3 linked regions of the Homo sapiens genome follow. The protein of the gene in region 2 interacts with the protein of the main gene of each other region in a pairwise test. Each region holds a gene or a part of one and is shown on either strand. Other genes may lie near its edges.

The links.
Region 1: the proteins of TMEM140 (region 2) and CLRN1 interact in binary tests that used the Homo sapiens proteins (3 or more experiments, as listed by UniProt).
Region 3: the proteins of TMEM140 (region 2) and CLEC17A interact in binary tests that used the Homo sapiens proteins (3 or more experiments, as listed by UniProt).

What each region holds. Positions count from the first base shown.
Region 1 is NC_000003.12:150,962,308-150,970,381, reverse strand, and holds part of CLRN1 (clarin-1), read left to right. Parts: intron 1-8,074. UniProt on the Homo sapiens protein: May have a role in the excitatory ribbon synapse junctions between hair cells and cochlear ganglion cells and presumably also in analogous synapses within the retina.
Region 2 is NC_000007.14:135,157,493-135,165,566, forward strand, and holds part of TMEM140 (transmembrane protein 140), read left to right. Parts: intron 1-6,925; 5' UTR 6,926-6,949; coding exon 6,950-7,507; 3' UTR 7,508-8,074.
Region 3 is NC_000019.10:14,606,430-14,612,955, forward strand, and holds the end of CLEC17A (C-type lectin domain family 17, member A), read left to right. Parts: intron 1-563; coding exon 564-673; intron 674-3,634; coding exon 3,635-3,767; 3' UTR 3,768-5,606; downstream 5,607-6,526. UniProt on the Homo sapiens protein: Cell surface receptor which may be involved in carbohydrate-mediated communication between cells in the germinal center. Binds glycans with terminal alpha-linked mannose or fucose residues.

The sequences.
Region 1 (8,074 bases), on a different chromosome or scaffold from region 2:
TCAACATGCCTTTGGGACACATTGCACCCTCAAAGTTTACACTCCCATTGCAACGCAGCTTTGTGGTTCACGTTTTTTCCATTCAGAATGTCATTACCCTGTCAATGATGTTTCATCAACGTTTGCTTGGATGAGAATCCTCTGATATTCTTCCTGATAGAAATGTATAAGCCCTGTTCATATAAATGAATAAAAGATCTAACCTTACTTTCTCAGTAGTGGCTTCCTTGGAGCAAAAAGCAGGGACCTCCAGAGAGCTCAGGTGGATGACTCTTTTCTGTTTCTTCCAGAGCTCAACTTACAATTAGTGCACAATTCATTTCCCAGAATGTCTTCTTTCTTATTGTGCCTTTAGAAAGTTATTAAGCAAACATTTGAATTCACAGAATCTTACCAGTGTAAGAGGAATGGAAAAGGTAACTTATCAAGGTAACAATCACTTCGTGGCCAGTTTTTTCGGCTCACTGCAACTACCCCTCCTGGGTTCAAGCGATTCTCCTGCCTCAGCCTCCCAAGTAGCTGGGACTACAGGCGTGCACCACCATGCCCAGCTAATTTTTTTTTTGTATTTTTAGTAAAGACAGGGTTTCACCATGTGGGCCAGGCTGGTCTCATGGCAAGTTTTCTTTGTGTTGTCATGTTATTATCAATTAATAGGAATTTATATTTCAGTTCTGTTAGGTGGATAAACACTATTTTGCATACCTAAATGTTTCATTTATATCAGCACTGGCCAATAAAAATATACTATAAGCAGGCCGGGTGCAGTGGCTCACGCCTGTAATCCCAACTTTTGGGAGGCCAACACTTTGGGAGGACACAGGGTCAGGAGATCGAGACCATCCTGGCTAACCTGGTGAAATCCCGTCTCTACTAAAAATACAAAAAATTAGCCGGGCGTGGCGGGGGCGCCTGTAGTCCCAGCTACTTGGGAGGCTGAGGCAGGAGAATGGCACGAACCCGGGAGGTGGAGCTTGCAGTGAGCCGAGATCTCGCCACTGCACTCCAGCCTTGGTGACAGAGCAAGACTCTGTCTCAAAAAAAAAAAAAAAAAAAAAAAAAAAAAAATATATATATATATATATATATTACAAGCCACAAGCCACATATGTACTTTTAAATGTCCTAGTAGCCATATTAGAAAACAAAAGTAAAAAGGAATAGATGAAATTAATTTTAATGATTTTTTTAAACCCAAGATATCCAAAATATTATCATTTTAACATATAATTAAAAATTTATTGAGATGTTTTACATTGTTTTTTTTTTTCTTGACGCTGTCTTGGAAATCTAGAGTGTATTTTACATTTACATTACATCTAATTCAGTCTAGCCACATTTCACATGCTCATTTTTTTGTGTGTGGTTTTATGGAGCAGAGAGTTTAATAGGCAAGAAAGAAAAGAGAAGGCAGAAGAAAATGGCTCCCCTGTACAGAGACGCGGGGGTGGGGCGCTCCAAAGCCAAAAGAGGAGGTCCCTAAGTATGGTAGACACCAGCCAGGAATATATGCAGTGTCTGGAGGAGGGGATGTCTGATTTGCATAGGGTCACATGCTCATTTTTATGGCTACTGTATTGGTCAGTACAGATTTAGATGGGGATTTGCTCTGAACAAGTTGGTGATTGATGGTGTTCATATTTTAATTGAATTTTTCCTGGGTTCTGCTGTACACTTGTATGTGTGTTAGTTTCATGTGCAATGCTTGTGTCACTTTTAAAACCCAGATATATGGCATAACATGAGAATGAAAAATGGACCAGAAAAATAGTTTGGCAATGTAGTCATGTTTGTTCCTATTAAATGTTCCCTATTGACCACTCTATCTCTTTTAATTATAACAAGAATCTGCCCTGCCAGCATGCCCAGTTACGCTGGGAAAACTTCTGCCTCATTTACTCTGGCTGATTCTCATCCACTTATGGGTCAGTGGTTCATTTTCTAGAGGTCACCAGCATTCATACCTAGCATACAATTTCATTCATTATAATGAAGGAATGTTTTCCCTTCAAAGAGACACAACTAGTGGGCTTAATTTTTCTTGATATGTCACCTGTAAAATTTTAATGATGATGTTTAAACTCTAAATGTAGCCATCAAGACAAAAACTGCAAATTTTGAGCCTCAGTGTGTGTGGGTGGGTTTCTGTTTCGGTAATTTGAAACATTGCAGAATATCATCAAAATATGATACCCAAGAATCATATGGTATCAATCATTCCTAGATATACTGATCTATTCATTGCCAAGATAGTTCAATGAGCTGGCAAAAACATATGGAATTATTTTCTTAAAATGTGAAAAATAAAATTTAACCAATCATGTATCACAGCTTGCAACTTTAGTCATACTTTGAAAAGCATTTTAATTTGGACCTCATGATTGAAAATTTATAAAAAGCTGAACAGAAATTAGTTCACTTCATATTTTAGAAAAGCAGAGTTTCTTTACTAAATGAGGCATTTGACCCAAATTGGAGAGAAAATGTTGAAACTACTTCTGTGAGCAAGCAGGTGGCTTCTCAAACACATGTTGGGATGAAATGGTTGGGCCTCAGGGTCTCAGTGCCTGTCACTGAGAGTTGGCACTCTCTATCTCCATGGTCTCCTCCAAGTGTGACTCTTGTCTCTTGCTGACCTGACCTGCCCCAAGTGACTCACTGGTCATGACCCTGCACACCTTGCGTCTCTCCTATCACCCTGCCGATGGCAGAGCTACAAAGGTCTTTGATGTAGCTCTGTCTGATATCCTGTGTTTCCCCCTATGGTCTGTGTGGAAGCAGGTATGGGGGTGTGTAAAGGGGAAGCCTATGAAGTTCATCTGCAAAGACTACCTGGTTAGGGGAGGAGAGGAAGAAGCTATATGCACCATTTCACCAGCAAGCATGGGCTCTTCTGCCTTTTAGCTTAGGGGTCCTGTTGTCTAGTCTCACTCACCTATTAAAACAGTCCAGCAAATAGAGGTTTTGTTTACCTCCCATTAAAAAAAAAGCAATTAATGGAATAGAAGATAATAATGTATGAGAAGCACTATTGTGAAAGAAAAACCTTCAACTTCTCTCAGCCAAATAATTGCTTCCTCCTCTGTCCTTCCCAGACCTTGATGTTTGCTCTATTATTTCAAAACAACTATATTATAAATATTTGAGAATGTGTATTTCCCTGCAAGGAGATCTTAATCCCCAAGAAGGCAGGAGCTGTGTATTATTCATCCCAGTGCTCCTTCAAACCAGGGCCTCAGACAGTGCATGGCCCAAAGAGGTACTTAATAAACGTTTGGTAAACTGACACTATTGAAATTAAGCAACCTGGATTTGAGGTGGGTCTCTGCCACTCACAAGAGATTACGCTTTGAGAAAATTCCATCACTTCATTGATTTTCAGTTCTTGCATCTGTATATGGGAGACGATACTAGGTGATTTCTGACATCTCTCACCGTTTAAATGCTCTGTGATCTATACAACGAGGGGCTCGCTGTTCTAGACAAGTTCCTTCCAGCTTTACAGTTGCATAACCCTTCTAATCTTAGTCACATGATGACTCCACTGACAGATTTTTGGCCACCATCATTAGACATGCTGAGTTACGTGTGCCTTTGCTCTGATCCTCAAAACTCATGATTTTTAAAGTTTTCTGAAATATCTACCATTTATCAGGATCCAGATGGATTTCATGACCAAAGTGGATGTTTCTTTTCTCTCCCATTACAATCTTTTACTTTTTGTGTGGGAAATTGCATGTTAAAGAAAGGGAAATTGAAGAATGGGATGCTTTGGAATTCTGGCAAGATGGATTAGTGGGTTCCAGAAAGTAGGGGCAGCCACAAATACCGAAATAAATGAGATCGTATTATTGAGAAAGCACAAATGGAAGAAGGTCAAAAGCAAGAAGAAGCTGACATCCTGCTTCCTCCAATTTTTGCTTTCTCTGTTTTTCCAAGAAACTCCTCTTCCAAGCCTTGCTGAAAAACTCCACTTTCCTAAATCTAACTTCTTAAACTGATAATGGCAAGAAGTTAGGAATGACCAATATGTTTAACACTCCAAGAGTATTTGTTTTGTTTTGTTTTGAGACTGGGTCTCACTCTGTCGTCCAGCCTGGAGTGCAGTGGTGTGATCACAGCTCACTGCAGCCTTGACCTCTCCTGCCCAAGGAATCCTCCCACCTCAGCCTCCTGAGTAGAAGGGACCACAGGCATGTGCCACTACACCTGGCTAACTTTTAAAAAATTTTTTTGTAGAGATGGGGTTGCCCAGGCAGGTCTCAAACTGCTGGGCTCAAGCAATCCTCCTGCATTGGCCTCCCAAAGTGCTGGAATTATGGGCATAAGCCACTACGCCTGACCTCTCCAAGGGCATTCTTTACCCAGAAGAGGAACTTGGCAGAACTTATCCTCCAATTGGTGAGGAATATGGAGAAAATGACTTTAAGCAAAGGAACTTCTGGTTCTGCCTACCTAATCCAGAAAAAGAAGTTTTATTTCTCCCTTCCCCTAGTAACTATCTTCCCATATTCACATAAAAAAGTACAGAATCAACATTGTTCAAGAATTATAATTTTACTTGTAAGCACATGTGCACACGCACACCCATATACCTTCCTTCCCTTTAAATCATCCCACACCCTAATAGTAGTAAAATCATTGACCCGAGCATACCTGGGAGAGGAAGAGGAGTCTGACAGGGGCAGGTTCTAAGTGGCACTCCTGGAACTTAACCCTGGTGTATATGAACTTTACCTATTGAAGGATGACTCCTCAACTGTTCTCACAATTTGCTGCTCTGCTTTCTTTTCTAATTTCTGAAGGTGACTCATCTTCCCCAAGGACTTTCAGACTTCTCAGAAGAAAAAAATATTGGGTGGGTCTCTGCCACTGGCAAAAGATTAGACTTTGAGAATCATAAAAGTATATCAGTATATACTCATTAATATTGAATTACTATAATTAATATTATGATATTGATATAATGATAGAATGATATTGATAAAAGCAATATTCAATAATGAATATTATTTCAGCTGCCCACTTATTGGGTGCCTCATAGGTGCCAGGCATTTTGTATGTATTATCTACAACCCTTACATGGGACATATTATGATGCTGTTTCTCTTGAAGAAATATGGAAACTGGAAACAGAGAGGTCACCACAATTTTCCAAAGTCACATAGCTAATAGGTAGCAGACTTGGGATTCAAATTCATATGCATATGGTAAATCATGCTCTTCCTCTGCTACATTTTGCCCCCTTAGAATATGAAAAAGGGATACAAAGAGATGAAGAAAATATGTAAGATTATCCTTCAATTTCACTATCTTTTTTAAAGTTTTTTTTATTATACTTTAAATTCTGAAATACATGTGCAGAACATGCAGGTTTGTTACATAGGTATACACGTGCCATGATGGTTTGTTGCACCCATCAACCTGTCATCTACATTAGGTATTTTTCCTAATGCTATCCCTCCCCTAGTCCCCCACCCACCGACAAGCCCCGGTGTGTGATATTCCCCTCCCTGTGTCCATGTGTTCTCATTGTTCAACTCCCACTTATGAGTGAGAACATGCGGTGTTTGGTTTTCTGTTCCTGCGTCAGTTTGCTGAGAATGATGGTTTCCAGCTTCATTCATGTTCCTGCAAAAGGCATGAACTCATTTTATGGCTGCATACCATTCTATGGTATACATGTGCCACATTTTCTTAATCTAGTCTATCATTGATGGGCATTTGGCTTAGTTCCAAGTCCTTGCTATTGTGAACAGTGCTGCAATAAACATATGTGGGCATATGTCTTTATAGTAGAATGATTTATAATCCTTTGGGTATAGACCCAGTAATGGGATTGCTGGGTCAAATGGCATTTCTGGTTCTAGGTCCTTCAGGAATTGCCACACTGTCTTCCACAATAGCTGAACTAGTTTACACTCCCACCAACAGTGTAAAAGCGTTCCTATTTCTCCACATCCTCTCCAACATCTGTTGCTTCCTGACTTTTTAATGATTGCCATTCTAATTGGAGTGAGATGGTATCTCAGTGTGGTTTTGATTAGCATTTCTTTAATGACAAGTGATGATGAGCTTTTTTTCATGTTTGTTGGCCGTATAAATGTCTTCTTTTGAGAAGTGTCCGTTCATATCCTTTGCCCACTTTTTAACGGGGTTTTTTCTTGTAAATTTGTTTAACTTCCTTGTAGATTCTGGATATTAGTCCTTTGTCAGATGGGTAGATTGCAAAAATTTTCTTCCATTCTGCAGGTTGCCCGTTCACTCTGATAATAGTTTCTTTTGCTGCGCAGAAGTTTTTTTAGTTTAATTAGATCCCATTTGTCAATTTTGGCTTTTGTTGCCATTGCTTTTGGTGTTTAGTCATGAAGTCTTTGCCCACGCCTATGTCCTGAATGGTAATGCCTAGGTTTTCTTCTAGGATTTTTATGGTTTTAGGTCTTATGTTTAAATCTTTAATCCATCTTGAGTTAATTTTTGTATAAGGTATAAGGAAGGGGTCCAGTTTAGTTTTCTGCATATGGCTAGCCAGTTTTCCCAACACCATTTATTAAATAGGGAATCCTTTCCCCGTTGCTTGTTTTTGTCAGGTTTGTCAAAGAGCAGATGGTTGTAGATGTGTGGCATTATTTCTGAGGCCTCTGTTCTGTTTCATTGGTCTCTGTATCTGTTTTGATACAAGTACCATGCTGTTTTGGTTACTGTAGACTTGTAGTATAATTTGAAGTCAGGTAGCGTAATACCTCCAGTTTTGTTCTTTTTGCTTAGGATTGTCTTGACTATTCAGGCTCTTTTTTGGTTCCATATGAAATTTAAAGTAGTTTTTTCTAATTCTGTGAAGAAAGTCAATGGTAGCTTGATGGGAAAAGCATTGAATCTATAAGTTACTTTGGGCAGTATGGCCATTTTCATGATATTAATTCTTCCTATCCGTGAGCATGGAATGTTTTTCCATTTGTTTGTGTCCTTTCTTATTTCCTTGAGCAGTAGTTTGTAGTTCTCCTTGAAGAGGTCCATCACATCCCTTGTAAGTTGTATTCCTAGGTATTTTGTTCTCTTTGTAGCAATTGTGAATGGAAGTTCACTCATAAGTTTGCTCTCTGTTTGTCTGTTATTGGTGTATAGGAATGCTTGTGATTTTTGCACATTGATTTTGTATCCTGAGACTTTGCCGAAGTTGCTTATCAGCTTAAGGAGATTTTGGGCTGAGACGACAGGGTTTTCTAAATATACAATCATCTCATCTGCAAACAGAGACAATTTGACTTCCTCTCTTCCTATTTGAATACGCTTTATTTCTTTCTCTTGCCTGTTTGCCCTGGCCAGAACTTCCAATACTGTGTTGAATAGGAGTGTTCACCACCTATTTTAAGAATAGTATTGAAGCCTCACAAAAGCTGGTTCTCATGTAACCATCTGAGAATATTTGGCCTTATGACTTGAATTCATTCATTGCCTTTTTATTTCACATTTTAGTGATCCTGATGTCTAAATCTTAATCTTTGATCCTTGCAAGGTAAAATAGCCAAGTCAAGCCTGTTTAATAATATTGGTTGAGGAAGTCACATGCTTATGATCAATCTTTGGGTTATGTAATTATATTACCTTAATGTTGGCAGTTTAGGTGTAAGGCAGAGATATCTGATCACATGTGTGGTTAGCTAATTTAAGATCACTGCCAACTAAAATCTTCATGGTATGATCTTCAAAGTTAGCTACTTTGACCACAGCAATGATTTCACCACAGCAATTAACAAAATGGCAGACTCTTTCCTGAGGTGGCATGAACAGTTTTAAAACAAAGTCAAGGACCAAAAGAAAAGCAGGCACATGGCATTTGATTCATTTCAAAAACTAGTATTGTATTAAGAGCCAAGGGGATAGAATTGTAGCATCAATTAAAATCTTGTTTGAAAAAAAATAAAAACAAACGTCCATTTTTATCTCTCAAATATATTAGGGTTTTCATAAAGTTATAGGTGTATTTTTAAAAAAACAAAACTCATATACATTAGACTGAAAAATTTGCCTGTCATCTCATCATGCAGCTAAATGCAATTGTCTATGGCGAGAT
Region 2 (8,074 bases):
GCAGCTTACGCTGCTCTGGTGGTTAGTGGGTCTTGGAGGGCTGATTCTTGGGCCTCCACATGGCTTGCTTAGAAGCTAGTAGTGGGAGTGGTGAGCCCAGTGTGTGGGCATGATCTCTAGCCCCTGAGCAGGTGGTGTCATGTGAGTGATGGCAGTAGCACTGTTGAAGCAGCCAACTGGGATCCAAGCAGTCCATGTTGGTGTTGCTGGAAGCTGTGATGGGTTGGGTGAGCTACTCCCCAGTCTCACAGCCACCTGTAGCAGGGTGGTGGGCACTGTTCTAAGTGTGCTTAGGAGAGCTTGGTCTTCCCTGTCCCTTTCCTACCAGGGTGGCAGCTGCAGCCACATTGCCTGATTGTTAATTCAGACTGGTTATGAATCAGCATTAAACTCTCAAAATGGTGCCAGCTGTGGGCTTGTGAACAGAGAAGGTGGGGCCCCTATCAGGTGAGCAGCATGGTCAAGAAGCTGTAGGGAGGGTGGTCTACTTGAGTCTCGGTCTCACAGCAACCCGTAGCAGGCACTGGGTATTGTCCTAGGTATGTGCGGGAGAGCATAGATTCCTTGTTTCTCCTTGACTGGGCAGCAGCTTCAGCCACATCAAGTTGAACTCAGCAAGAAGGTGGGGCACAGCCCAGCATTAAACTCTCAAAATGGCACCTTGGGCCTGTGACCAGGAGGGCAGGGGTCCCTCCAGGCAGGCAGCATGGGCAAGAAGCTGTAGGGAAGGCAGTCTGCTCACATTTCAGTCTCAACAGCAGCATGTTGCAGAGCAGTGGGTATTGACCTAGATGTGCATAGGACAGCCTGATTTCCCTGTTAATCCTTGGCTGGGTGGCAGCTACAGCTGCACCAGCCCAATCTCAGTTCCAGGGAGGGGTGCTGCCCAACATTAAACTCTCAAAATAGCACCTGGAGCCTGAGACCAGAGAGGGAGGAGCACCTCACAAGTAAGCAGCATTGGCAACAAGCTGTGGAACACACAGGATGGCCACATCTCGGTCTCACAGCAGCCCATGGCAGGGCAGGGGGTCTTGTCCTAGATATGTGTAGGATGGCCTGATTTCCCTATCCTTCCTTAGCCAAGAGGCAGCTACAGCCTCATCAGCCCAAACTCAGGCTGGGAGGGGAATGCAGCCCAGCATTAAACTCTCAAAATGCTACCTTGGGCCTGGGATCAGAGAGTGTCCCTCCCAGACAAGCAGTGTGGAAAAGAAGCTGTGGGGAGGGGTGTCTACTCACATCTGTCTCAATAGCAGCCCACAGCAGGGCAGCAGACCCTCCCAGGGGTGCATGGGAGCACCTGCTCTCCCGTCTCCCTCCTTGAAGCAGCTCGGCAGCAAGAGCCATGTCTGTAGAGTCCCAGTATCTAGGCTCTCAAAATGGCACCCTGCTGAGGCTGCTCCAGGTTCAGATGCATGTGAGATTTTGTATTGGTTTCCTTTCTGGAGCAATGCCTCTGTGCAATGTTTAGGCAGCTCCGAATGTCAGGCCCAGGCCCTGGCCCAGTGGGTCGAGGTTTCCTTCCGTGGCCAAGATTATAAAAGTTTGTTTTGGAGCCCTAGGGGGTTCTCTCTTACTGTTTCCCCACATCAGGAGCCTCTCCCGACTCTCAGTCGGTTCCCAGCTGGGCAAGCTGCCTCGAATCCTCTCCTTACTTCTCATGTTTCCCATATCTTTTCTGGTTTATCCTAGCATTCTCTCCTAGACAATCTGTTCAAAATGGATCCACTTACTATTCTGGTTTCTCACCATGGTGGAGGCACATACTACCTGTGTTTAGATAGCCATCTTGATCCTTTCGAAAATTTACTCTTTCAATAAGAACCTGACAAATACATAATTTAGAATTAAATGATACAATATTTGTGTCTCTTTCAGCCGCCATCCCATTCTCCCTTATTAGTATGAAAATGTTAGAGGTGCTTAAACCAACAAAAAAGCTGCCTTAAATTAATCTCCTGAGAATACTTTCCTTCTATTTCCCTAACTAGGAATTTGTATCGCCTTTAAGCAGAAATCATCTCCCTCCTAAGGCCCTGCTCAGGCTGTAACTCTTGAGTGACAGTGGTCAAGTTACATGCTGACCTGGAATCTAAATCTGCATCTTGTTCCAGAGGACCTAGTGCAGCAAAGCATTATACTTTACTGTCACAACTAAGATGGCAAAAGGCTAACAGCCTTTATTTTTAAAGGGTTCATACAGACCAACAAACAAAAACTGAAACTCAAAATTATTTTTAAAATAGCAAAAGAACTGACAGCACTTCACAAAAGAAGAAATACAGATGGTCAACAAACACTTGAAAATGTTAAACTTTACTTATTATGAAGAAAAACTATCAATGATTCATCATTTGTCATTATCAAAGAATAAAAGACTCAAGAATATGCAATACTGGGGAGGATGGGATGAGACAGGCACTCTCTGAAACTGCTGGTGGAAACATAAGTTGATTCACAAAAATATTCACCATAGCATTCATAGCATTATAAAATAATGTTACAAAGCATCTATGTATAAACTATAAACTATGATACAGCTATATGCAGCCCTTAATGTTTAGGAACCATTTCTAGTTCACATAGAATGATGTTCACAAAGTGGGATACAAACATATATATTTATGTAATCCCAACAGTGTAAAACAATAGTGTAAAAAGAAGTGTGCTGTTCAGAGTGGTTATTTCTACGACCTGAAGTATAGATGACTTTTAGTCTTTTCTCTGCACTTTCATGTATTTTCTAGTTTCCTACAATCAGCATGTGTTATTATAAACAGGAAAAGGTTTATCTAAAAATGGCCACAGTGACTCAGCAGTCTCCCCTTTGCCCTCTGAAGGAAACACTGGCTTATCATTAAAGGACATTTAAAAGCTCATTGTGGTGGAAGTGTCATTACCAGGATTGTTTAAGAAAAGAAAAACAAAAACCAGGGAAGGCCCATGGGGAAGTAGAGAAGAGTGTCATGGGGTTTCCAACCAAAGATCCATATGCTGTCACTGCAAAATGTTTAGGGAAAGAAGCGAGGACTGACTTCCACCCTCTCCATACACAAGTTCCTGAATTCTGTCCATAGTTCAACAGAAAGCATGGATGGGCCATGCCAGCACTGTGCTGAGCATGCATACGACATTAAACACAACCCTCCCTCAGGCAGCTCTGCTGTCCTAAGATGTGTAACCAGGATTCGTACATGAAAGAACTCAGGGAGCCTATGTAGCATTTTCATTCGCTCATTTAAAAAAAAAAAACAAAAAAAAGAGCCCCTACTGTGTATCAAAATAACAAAACTGAAGACTGTTCCTCAGAGACATGACACTAGAGTGGAGAATAAATCCTAATTTATAGCTAAACCAGAGTGTGGGCTGAAGGAGCCCAGGAATGCTCTTGCTGCATGGATCAGATTTAGAGAAGCAGAAAGTAGAGTAGGACTCTAGGAGCTGGGGGGTGGCTGAGGATGGGCAGATGGGAATGTATTCATACACAGCCTGAGCAGCTGAGCAGGTGCTGGACTGCACAAGGCAAGAGGGGAAGCTGGGCCTCACCAGAGAATTCCAAGTTCAAGTTCCAAGTCGCACCAGATGATGGCGAGCCTCATAAGAGCTGGGACTGAATATAAAAAGGTGAGAGGCCACCACCTTCTCCACATGCCTGGTCCTGGGCTTCTTGGCTCGTTTTGTTTTGCTCTACATTAAAAGGTCAGTTGAGAGAAAATGAGGAAGTCAAAACAAAGGCTCCTGGCGTCTGGCAGGAGCTGCCGCAAGGTGGCTGATGCAATCTCCCCGAGGAGCCACATTAATTTTTAAAAAGGCAGCTGTTTTCAAAGCAAAACGTTTAATAATTTTTTTTGGAACCCCAGTGTAACAGAATTCAAATGGGAAAAGTGAGAGGGAGTGTTTAAACAAAGGCATCCCCAAGTCCCTTCCCAGTTGGTCCTGAACAATGGAGGAGGTCAAACCTTCTTTTCCACAGCATGATGGTATAAATCAGGGAAGTCCTGGAAATCTATTCCACACCCTAAAATACCCAAACCCATTAAAAGCACAGATATAGGCTTTTACAAACATTTACTAAATAAGCAAAACCATACAAAATATGTTCCCGTCGGCAATTTTTCCCATACCATGGACTCAAATGGTTAAAACTCCTTATCATCCCAGACTAATGCCACCTTTTCAATTCCCAATAATTCCTTCCGTAACAAGCATCATTGCTCCAAGAATCTCTCAACTACATTCAAACCCGAGTCTTCAGACCCTTGGCCCTCTGGGACCTCCAGAGCCTTTGACAGTGCCACCCAAGGCAGCAGCCAGGGCTTCTGCTGGGACAGCCCCTCACTCCTCCACTCTGACTGTCCCCACTGGGCTTCTCTGGAGCAGAAGCCACGGGCAGAACTGGGCAGACTGCCCAGTGCTGCTGAGTCCAGAGAAGCGGCATCTGAGGGGAGGCGGTGGCAGTGTGGACCCCACCCTTACTGTATTCACAGGCCCCAGCTCTCCATCAGCCAGCCTGCCCAGGTCTCTGCCAAAGAAGTCGCTGGTCAATCTTCATTCTCATTTTTGGCATACACCTAGGTCCTTTGAATGGAGCTGCCCTCTCTCTCAGCCTGTTCCATGTTCTTTATTTTCCCCACTTGGTCCCTTTCTGTAACAAATGCAGTGTGTAGAATGAGACAGACCTTCCAGTCAGCTCTGGGAAAGAGGAGGGAGCTGTTCCCCCAGAGGGGTCCCCTCAGAAACTGATCATCAGGGCTGTGTAGCCTTCAGGTCCCTTCCCAGGGCCACGACTCATTTTGCTGCTGAACACCACCTGGGACTCCCTGCTGGGGCTTCCAGGAGGCCATTTGGTATCATGGCCCCAGTACCTTGTGCCTCACAAAGCTTGAAGCTCTGTGTTCCTAGTCACTTCCTGGTGAATGCTGTTGTATTAGTCCATTTTCATACTGCTATGAAGAGATACCCAGTAATTTGAAAAGAAAAAGAGGTTTAATGGACTCATAGTTCCACATGGTTAGGGAGGCCTCACAATCATGGTGAAAGGCAAAGGAAGAGCAAAAGCACATCTTACATGGCAGCAGGCAAGAGAACATGTGCAGGGGAAATGCCCTTTATAAAACCATCAGATATCATGAGACTCACTACCATGAGTACAGTATGGGGGAAACCCACCCCCATGATCCAATTACCTCCCACTGGGTCCCTCCCACAATGTGGGGATTATGGGAGCTATAATTCAAGATGAGATTTGGGTAGGGACACAGCCAAACCATATCAGCCGAAACTTATCCCATACTGGAAAATACACATATGTAAAATACAGTGTGCAGACCACTGTTTCAGAGACCAACTGGACAAAGCCCTTCTGATTTAAAACGGAGTGAAAAGAATTTTTTAAAAGAGTATAACAAAGTGGGCACTTTTATATACAATTAGAGGGACTATGATTAGCAAATTTTCTGTAGGCCAGTTAGGCAGTATTTAGCAAGATCACTAAAAGATATTTCTACCCTTGATCCAATGATTGCACTTATAGGTAGATCACCTGAGAAAAATCAGATTCCAAACACGATTCACACAGCGTCTTCACTTATAATGGTGAAAAGTGGAAACAATTTGTCTAGTAATAGTGTAATGGATGATCCCACATGAACTATTGCACAGCCATTGATCATGTTTTTGAAGAATATTTAACAGCTTTGAAAAATGTTTACTAAATCTAGTGAAAAAACATTACATTCAACATCATGATTATGTAAAAATACATCAGTACAGGAAGAAAATATTGGTAGAATATTAACAGTGGTTTTATGTGTATGATGGGATAAAAGGTTATCTTTTTTATTATTATTTTTAAAATATCTTCTGGCCAGGCATGGTGGCTCATGCCTGTAATCCCAGCACTTTGGGAGGCCAAGGTGGGTGGATCATTTGAGGTCAGGAGTTCAATCAAGACCAGCCTGGCCAACATGGTGAAACCCATCTCTACCAAAAATACAAAAATTAGCCAGGCATGGTGGCGGGTGCCTGTAGTCCCAGCTACTCGGGAGGCTGAGGCAGGAGACTTGCTTGACCCCGGGAGGCAGAGATTGCAGTGAGCCAAGATCGCACCACTGCACTCCAGCCTGGGTGACAGAGTGAGGCTCCATCTCAAAAACAAACAAACAAACAAAAACGTCTAAGTTTTCTATAATTCATACTACCATTGTCAGGAAAAAATATGTATTAGTTTTTAAAGTAATGAGTATATGATGGGATTTCATCACCAGGTGACATCTTGTCTTGACCCAGTAATGAGTTCCCAGAGCACTGCAGGTAAAATCAGAGTGGGTGTGTCAGTGGTCCTTGACCCAGGCTCACCTTCGAATGAGCTTCAGAGCTTCAGAAACACACCAGTGCCCAGCCCGAAGCACATAAGTTGAGCTCTGATTGATCTGTGGCCCAGCAATGGGTAGTTCTTACAGCTCCCCAGGTGGTTGTCTTGGCAGCTGTGGTGAAAACCAATAGCTTCCTCCACCTTCAGGTCTCCATTAAGGGTGGGCCTTGCCCTTCACCTCAGTCAAAACCCACCTTCAAAAAAGATCTGAGAAATCCCCTCACTAATGTTTCCAATGGCTTGTTGTATTTGGACTGGAGCAAAGCCTTTGGCTAAAGAGCACTTCACTCAGTTTAAGATGTTTCACACTTTCAAAGCTGCTTGGGAGAGACTTTTCCTCCTGACCTCAAATCAGAGGGCAGCTAATGACTTATTTGCAAATAGGTCCTGGCAGGAGGTTACCTCAGACTTCTGGTCCTTGGTGGAGGGCAGGGTAGGAGGGAAACTTGCCATGAGTTTGTAAGAAATGCCAAAGGGAGAACATGAGCTTGTCTGGACACAGGGAACAAGCAAGGGAGAGATGGACTGACTGCTGTGACTTCCCCGCAGGTCCCCCGGCAGAGGGCAGTAGAGATGGCCGGCCCAAGGCCTCGGTGGCGCGACCAGCTGCTGTTCATGAGCATCATAGTCCTCGTGATTGTGGTCATCTGCCTGATGTTTTACGCTCTTCTCTGGGAGGCTGGCAACCTCACTGACCTGCCCAACCTGAGAATCGGCTTCTATAACTTCTGCCTGTGGAATGAGGACACCAGCACCCTACAGTGTCACCAGTTCCCTGAGCTGGAAGCCCTGGGGGTGCCTCGGGTTGGCCTGGGCCTGGCCAGGCTTGGCGTGTACGGGTCCCTGGTCCTCACCCTCTTTGCCCCCCAGCCTCTCCTCCTAGCCCAGTGCAACAGTGATGAGAGAGCGTGGCGGCTGGCAGTGGGCTTCCTGGCTGTGTCCTCTGTGCTGCTGGCAGGCGGCCTGGGCCTCTTCCTCTCCTATGTGTGGAAGTGGGTCAGGCTCTCCCTCCCGGGGCCTGGGTTTCTAGCTCTGGGCAGCGCCCAGGCCTTACTCATCCTCTTGCTTATAGCCATGGCTGTGTTCCCTCTGAGGGCTGAGAGGGCTGAGAGCAAGCTTGAGAGCTGCTAAAGGCTTACGTGATTGCAAGGGTTCAGTTCCAACCATGGTCAGAGGTGGCACATCTGCTCAGCCATCTCATTTTACAGCTAACGCTGATCTCCAGCTCCAGCGATGGAACCCACTACAGAGGAGGTGGGGCCCCTGTGTCAAAGAGGCCGAGGGGCAGCAAGGGCAGCCAGGGCACCTGTGACTTCTTAGTACAAGATTGTCTGTCCTTCAGGACTTCCAAGGCTCCCAAAGACTCCCTAAACCATGCAGCTCATTGTCACACCAATTCCTGCTTTAATTAATGGATCTGAGCAAATCTTCCTCTAGCTTCAGGAGGGTGGGGAGGGAGTGATTGCTGTCATGGGGCCAGACTTCCAGGCTGATTTGCCAAATGCCAAAATGAAACCTAGCAAAGAACTTACGGCAACAAACGAGGACATTAAAAGAGCGAGCACCTCAGTGTCTCTGGGGACATGGTTAAGGAGCTTCCACTCAGCCCACCATAGTGAGTGGGCCGCCATAAGCCATCACTGGAACTCCAACCCCAGAGGTCCAGGAGTGATCTCTGAGTGACTCAACAAAGACAGG
Region 3 (6,526 bases), on a different chromosome or scaffold from region 2:
GCACTTTGGGAGGCTGAGGCAGGTGAATCAACTGAGGTCAGAAGTTTGAGATCAGGCTGGTCAACATGGCGAAAGCCCGTTTCTACTAAAAAATACAAAAATTAGCCGGGCGTGGTGGCGGGTAGCTATAATCCCAGCTACTCGGGAGGTTGAGGCGGGAGAATCGCTTGAACCCAGGAGGTGGAAGCTGCAGTGAGCTGAGATCGCACCACAGCACTCCAGCCTGGGTGACAGAGCGAGACTCCCTCTCAAAAAAAAAAAAAAAAAAGTTAATCCTCACAACACTACCAGGAGGTAGCTACTGTGAACCCATTTTACAGGTGAGGAAACTGAGGCACGGAGCAGTTCGCAGATTGCATGAGAAAAAGTAGCACGATTATTCCCACCACACATGCTACAGTGGGAGGAAGACATTGATCCTGTTCTGCATACCATGGGGACGGGGACGGGTTGTGGGAGGTGACGTTCCCAAGCCCTAAATATGTAGGACAGGGCACAGGGCAGGTCCTCACCCTGAGGGTCATGTAGAGGAATGGCTGGCTGAATGGAATTTTTATTTGCAGAATTTTGTGGCCAAGGCCCATGGCTCTCCACGGGTGTACTGGCTGGGGCTGAATGACAGGGCCCAGGAAGGGGACTGGAGGTGGCTGGATGGGTCTCCTGTGACATTAAGGCAAGTGCTTGGGTTTCCTGGGGTCTCTCTGCTTCCTCTGTGGGCCCTGACCATGGGGAGGGGAGAAGGTGATGGAGTACATGGTTGAAGGAGTCAGGAGCTGTTTCTTTTTTTTTTTTTGAGACAGAGTCTTGCTCTGTCGCCCAGGCTGGAGTGCAGTGGCGCAATCTCAGCTCACTGCAAGCTCCGCCTCCCAGGTTCAAGGTATTCTCTGCCTCAGCCTCCCGAGTGGCTGGGACTACAGGTGCCCATCACCATGCCCGGCTAATTTTTTGTATTTTTAGTAGAGACGGGGTTTCACCGTGTTAGCCAGGATGGTCTTGATCTCCTGACCTCGTGATCTGCCCGCCTTGGCCTCCCAAAGTGCTGGGATTACAGGCGTGAGCCACCGCGCCCGGCCAGGAGCTGGTTTTTACTGGTACAGCTCTACTTGTTTTATTTTATTTTATTATTTATTTATTTATTTATTTATTTATTTATTTATTTATTCTTTGAGACGGAGTCTCGCTGTCGCTCAGGCTGGAGTGCAATGGTGCGATCTCAGCTCACTGTAATCTCTGTCTCCCAGGTAGAGGTTGATTCTTCCACCTTAGTCTCCCAAGTAGCTGGGATTACAGACACCCGCCGTCGTGCCTGGCTAATTTTTGTAATTTTGTAGAGATGGGGTTTCACCATGTTGGCCAGGCTGGTCTTGAACTCCTGACCTCAGGTGATCTGCCCACCTTGGCCTCCCAAAGTGTTGGGATTACAGGGGTGAGCCACTGCGCCCAACCTTATTTTAGTTTTTTGAGACAGTCTCGCCCTGTCACCCAGGCTGGAGTGCAGTGGTGCAATCTCGGCTCACTGCAGCCTCAACCTCCCAGGCTCTGGTAATCCTCCTGCCTCAGCCTCCCGAGTACCTGGGACCACAGTCACACACCACCATGCCTGGCTAATTTTTTGTATTTTTAGTAGAGATGGGGTTTTAGTGTGTTGCCCAGGCTGGTTTTGAACTTCTGAGCTCAAGCGATCCACCCGCCTTAGCCTCCCAAAGTGCTGGGATGACAGGCTTGAGCCACCACACCTGGCCTCTACTAATTTTAAACACAGAAAAATTCCTGTCCTGTTTGGTAAATTGCCATTGCCTTAAATCTCCTGAGAATCCTTCTGCTGCCCCTTGGACTTCCACATCACCTAACAACTAAAGGATTTGTCATTGGCAAAGAAGGGGCCTAGAGACCCTGATTGCAGGGTGTGTGGCACAGGTAGCATTGCTCATTATTTTGGTACACCACCCCCAGTCATTCCCATTTCCCTGTGTGCTTGGCATCCTTGCAGTCCAAGCTGATAGGGTGTCTAGCATCCCAGGCTTGGCCAGACAGGGACAGCACCAGGGTGATTTTTTGGTGACAGGCTGTCTGGACCCTGAACCTTCAATATTTCCTCCATTGCAACATCTCAGTCTTTTCGTAAAACTGCTGAAATATATCAAGCTCTCCAGGCTAATGGTTGGGAGAAAAAAGGGAGGGTGGAAGGATGAGGAAGAATTTTTTTTTTTTTTTTTTTTTTTGAGACAGAGTCTCACTCTGTTGCCCAGGCTGAAGTGCAGTGGTGCAGTCTTGACCCAATGCAACCTCTGCCTCCCAGGCTCAAGTGATTCTCCCACCTCAGACTATTGAGTAGCTGGGATTACAGGTGCGCACCACCATGCCTGGCTAATTTTTTTTTTTTTTTTTGAGACGGAGTCTCACTCTGTGGCCCGAGCTGTAGTGCAGTGGCACAATCTTGGCTCACTGCAACTTCTGCCTCCTGGATTCAAGCGATTCTCCTGCCTTAGTCTCCCAAGTAGCTGGGATTACAGGCGCCCGCCACCATGCTTGGTTAATTTTTGTAGTTTTAGTAGAGACGGGGTTTCAACATGTTGGCCAGGCTGGTCTCGAAATCCTGACCTCAGGTGATCTACCCGTCTTGGCCTCCCAAAGTGCTGGGATTACAGGTGTGTGCCACCGCACCTGGCGGAACATTGGCTGCTAAAGGCTCACAGGAATGCTTTTTCCGCAAAGCTATTCTCAGCTGAATGGGAGCCTGCTCACCTAAGACACTACCCAACTCCACTGGGGTCAGCTCACAACCGGTGACAGCCTAAGAGAAGCCTGGACCCCTTGTGACAAGTTGGGATGACTCTGGTGCTGTTGACATCCCAGTGGTCTCTGTTGGGGTCAGGCTGAGGCTAGAGTCATCTGAGTCCATGCTCCTGCTCAATTCCTTCCCCTTCTCCATCTAGCTTCCCTCACCTCTCTCCTAAGAACATCCTTTAATAAATCCTACACACTCGAGTCCCTGAATCAGGCCCTGCTTTAAGCAAGAGCCCACATGATCTAAACAATTCCTAGAAGGTTGGGTTGGGAGGTTGTAAAAGAAAGAGTCCTTGGAAGACAAGACAGAAACTGACCAGATTCAGAAATTGATTAAGGGGCCAGGCACGGTGGCTCGTGCCTGTAATCCTAGCACTTTGGGAGGCTGAGGCGGGCGGATCACTTGAGGTCAGGAGTTCAAGACCAGCCTGGCCAACATGGTGAAACCCCGTCTCTACTAAAAATATAAAAACTAGCCGGGTGTGGTGGTGGACACCTGTAATCCCAGCTACTTGGGAGGCTGAGGCAGGAGAATTGCTTGAACCCAGGAGACAGAGGTTGCAGTGAGCCGAGATCACGCCACTGCACTCCAGCCTCAGCGACAGAGTGAGACTCTGTCTCCAAAACAAAACAAAACAAAACAAAAAACCCCCCAAAACCAGAAATTGATTAAGGGCCAGGCACGGTGGCTCACTGTGCCCGGCTTACAGGTGTAAGGCTCCACACACGGCCTAATATGGGTTTTGCCAAATGCGTAGTGCCAGGTATTCATCATTACAGTATTATACAGAAGAGTTTCACCACCCTAAAGATCCCTGTCCCTCTGCCCACTTTTTCCTCCATCCAGCTTCTGGGAGCCAGAGGAACCCAATAACATCCACGATGAGGACTGTGCTACCATGAACAAAGGTGGCACCTGGAATGATCTCTCTTGCTACAAAACTACGTATTGGATTTGTGAGCGGAAATGTTCCTGTTGAAGCCCAGGGCCGAGGCTGGGGGTCCATATCTGAGTGTCTCTTTGAGATGAGAATCTCCTGCCCTTTCGTGGACGGCCTTGCCTCTTCGTGAGTGGACACACAGATGTGCCTCAAACAGGATTGGCACCCTGGATGCAGCAAGTTCCCAGGGGTGCAAGTCAGGCTGTTTCTAGAGTGAGGACTTGGGCTTGCCCTAGTAGATGGTGAGCTGGGAGGATGCTCAGAGCTTGGTGGTGGGAGGTCTCCCACTTCTGGGGTTGAAAGGATCTTCACTAAGTTCCTGATCATGACTCTTGGGAAGTGATACTAGCCCTGAGGACCCTGGGGCTGGTGTTGAACCTGGGATGAAATATCCTGGCGCCTGTGAACCACAAAGAGCTGGGACTGGGCTCCTTTTCCTGCAGCCTCAAACTTCTGGGCTCAGGTGATCCTCCCATCTCAGCCTCCTGAGTAGCTGGGACTACACATGCGCACCACCATGCCTGGCCAATTTTTTGTAGCATTTAAAGAGAGGGAGTCTCACTATGTTGCCCAGGCCAGTCTCAAACTCCTTGCCTCAATGGATCCTCCTACTTGGGCTTCCCAAATTGTGAGGATTACAGGTGTGAGCCACTGTGCCTGGCTCAAAATTATTATTATTATTTTTATAGAGATGAGGTCTCACTCTGTTGCCGAGGCTGGTCTCAAACTCCTGGGGTCAAGCAATCCTTCCGTGATGGCCTCCCAAAGTGCTGGGATTACAGGCATGTGTCACCGTACCTGGCCGATATTTTTATTTTTATTTTTACTTTCCCCATCTTTTCCTTTTTTTTTTTTTTCCAAACAAAAGCTTTGAAAGTGGTGACAGAAAAATTTCCCTTTGAGCTAGACCTCTAGATCTGCCTCGCACAGAAATACATTAAGTGGGCTGGTCTCATGTAGTCCCCACATCATTGCAAATTACAAACCTAAAAATACAGAACATCAGCGGAGAAGACAGGAGAGCTTCTATATTCACCCCATGTCGTCCTCTCCAGACACTGCTTCCTTCCTGGTCTCAAACAGCACAAATAACCCAGAAACCATCAAAATTATTTTTGACCAGCAACTTTCTCAATGTCTTGGGTGAGGTTTGCACAAGCTAAGTGGCAGAATCAGACTTTTGCCAGAAGACTTGGCCCGTGGAACTTCTATCCTTTTTTTTTTTTTTTTTTTTTTTTGAGATAGGGTTTCATTCTACTACCCAGGCTGGAGTGCAGTGGCACAATCATAGCTTACTGCACCCTCTGCCTCCTGGGCTCGAGTGATCCTCCTGCCTCAGCCTCCCAAGTAGCTGGGACTACAGGCGTTCACCCTCACACCTGGCTGGCCCATGGAACTTCTAGAAAGGCATACCAGCTGAAAAGCAAGACCCCTACATAGTGTGGCCAGGCAGGCCATAACCTGGTCATATCCACACAGGACAACGATGGACCTATCTGCCAGCACGTGCCCTTGAGCTATCTGTGGGTTGTAACGTCTTTGATGATATAATTCACTTTACTTGCCAGGCACAGTGGCTCACGCCTGTAATCCCAGCACTCTGGGAGACTGAGGTGGGCTGATCACCTGGGGTCAGGATTTCGAGACCAGCCTGGCCAACATGGTAAAATCCTATCTCTACTAAAAATACAAAAAAATTAGCTGGGCGTGGTGGCATGTGCCTGTAATCCCAGCTACTCAGGAGACTAAGGCACGAGAATTGCTTGAACCCAGGAGGCGGAGGTTGCAGTGAGCCGAGATTGTGCCACTGCACTCCAGCCTGGGTGACAGAGCAAGACTCCATCTCAAATAAATAAATAAAAATAAAAATTCACTTTACTTCTGTGTGGACTTTCCTGGGCTATTAGCTCTTGCAATGTTAGTGCTTCTCAAAATGCCACTATGTTGGGTGTTCCTTGTCTACTGTGTGTTAGTTTGCTGGGGCTGCCATAACAAAGGACTGGGTGGCTTCAGCAACAGAATGCATTTTCTCACAGTTCCGGAGGCTGGATGTCCAAGATCAAGGTGTTGGCAGGGTTAATTTCTTCTGAGGCCTCCTGTCTTGGCTTGTAGATGATCCTCTTCTCCCTGTGTCTTCACCTGGTTCTCCTTCTGTGTGTCTGGGTCCTAATCTCCTCCTCCTCTTCTTTTGTTTTTGAGACAGGGTCTCGCTCTGTCACTCAGGCTGGAGTGCAGTGGTGTGATCTCAGCTCACTGCAACTTCCACCTCCCAGGCTTAAGCATCCTCCCGCCTCAGCCTCCTGAGTAGCTGGGATTACAGGTGTGCACCACCGTGCCTGGTTAATTCTTGTATTTTTTGTAGCAACGGGGTTTCACCATGTTGCCCAGACTGGTTTTGAACTCCTAGGCTCAAGCAATCTGCCCACCTTGGTCCCCCAAAGTGCTGGGATTACAGGCATGAGCCACTGTGCTGGGCCTACAACGACCACTTTAAAGATCCTGTCTCCAAATACAGCCATATTAGGAGGTCCTGGGAATTAGAATTTAAACATATGCATTTGGGAGGGGTGGCACAATTTGGCCCATAACATTCACAAACTGCCAGAGTGACCCCCACCCGACCCTCCTGCCCTGGCCATGTGACAACCAAAAAATACCAATTAGAGGGCTGGTACTACTCCCAGCTAGGCATAACTCAACATAGTATTCCCTTTGGACAATCCCTGAATTGCATCCAAGGGTGGGTAGACATTCTCCAAACCAATCAATTTATTTTTTTTTTTTTTGTGACAGAGTCT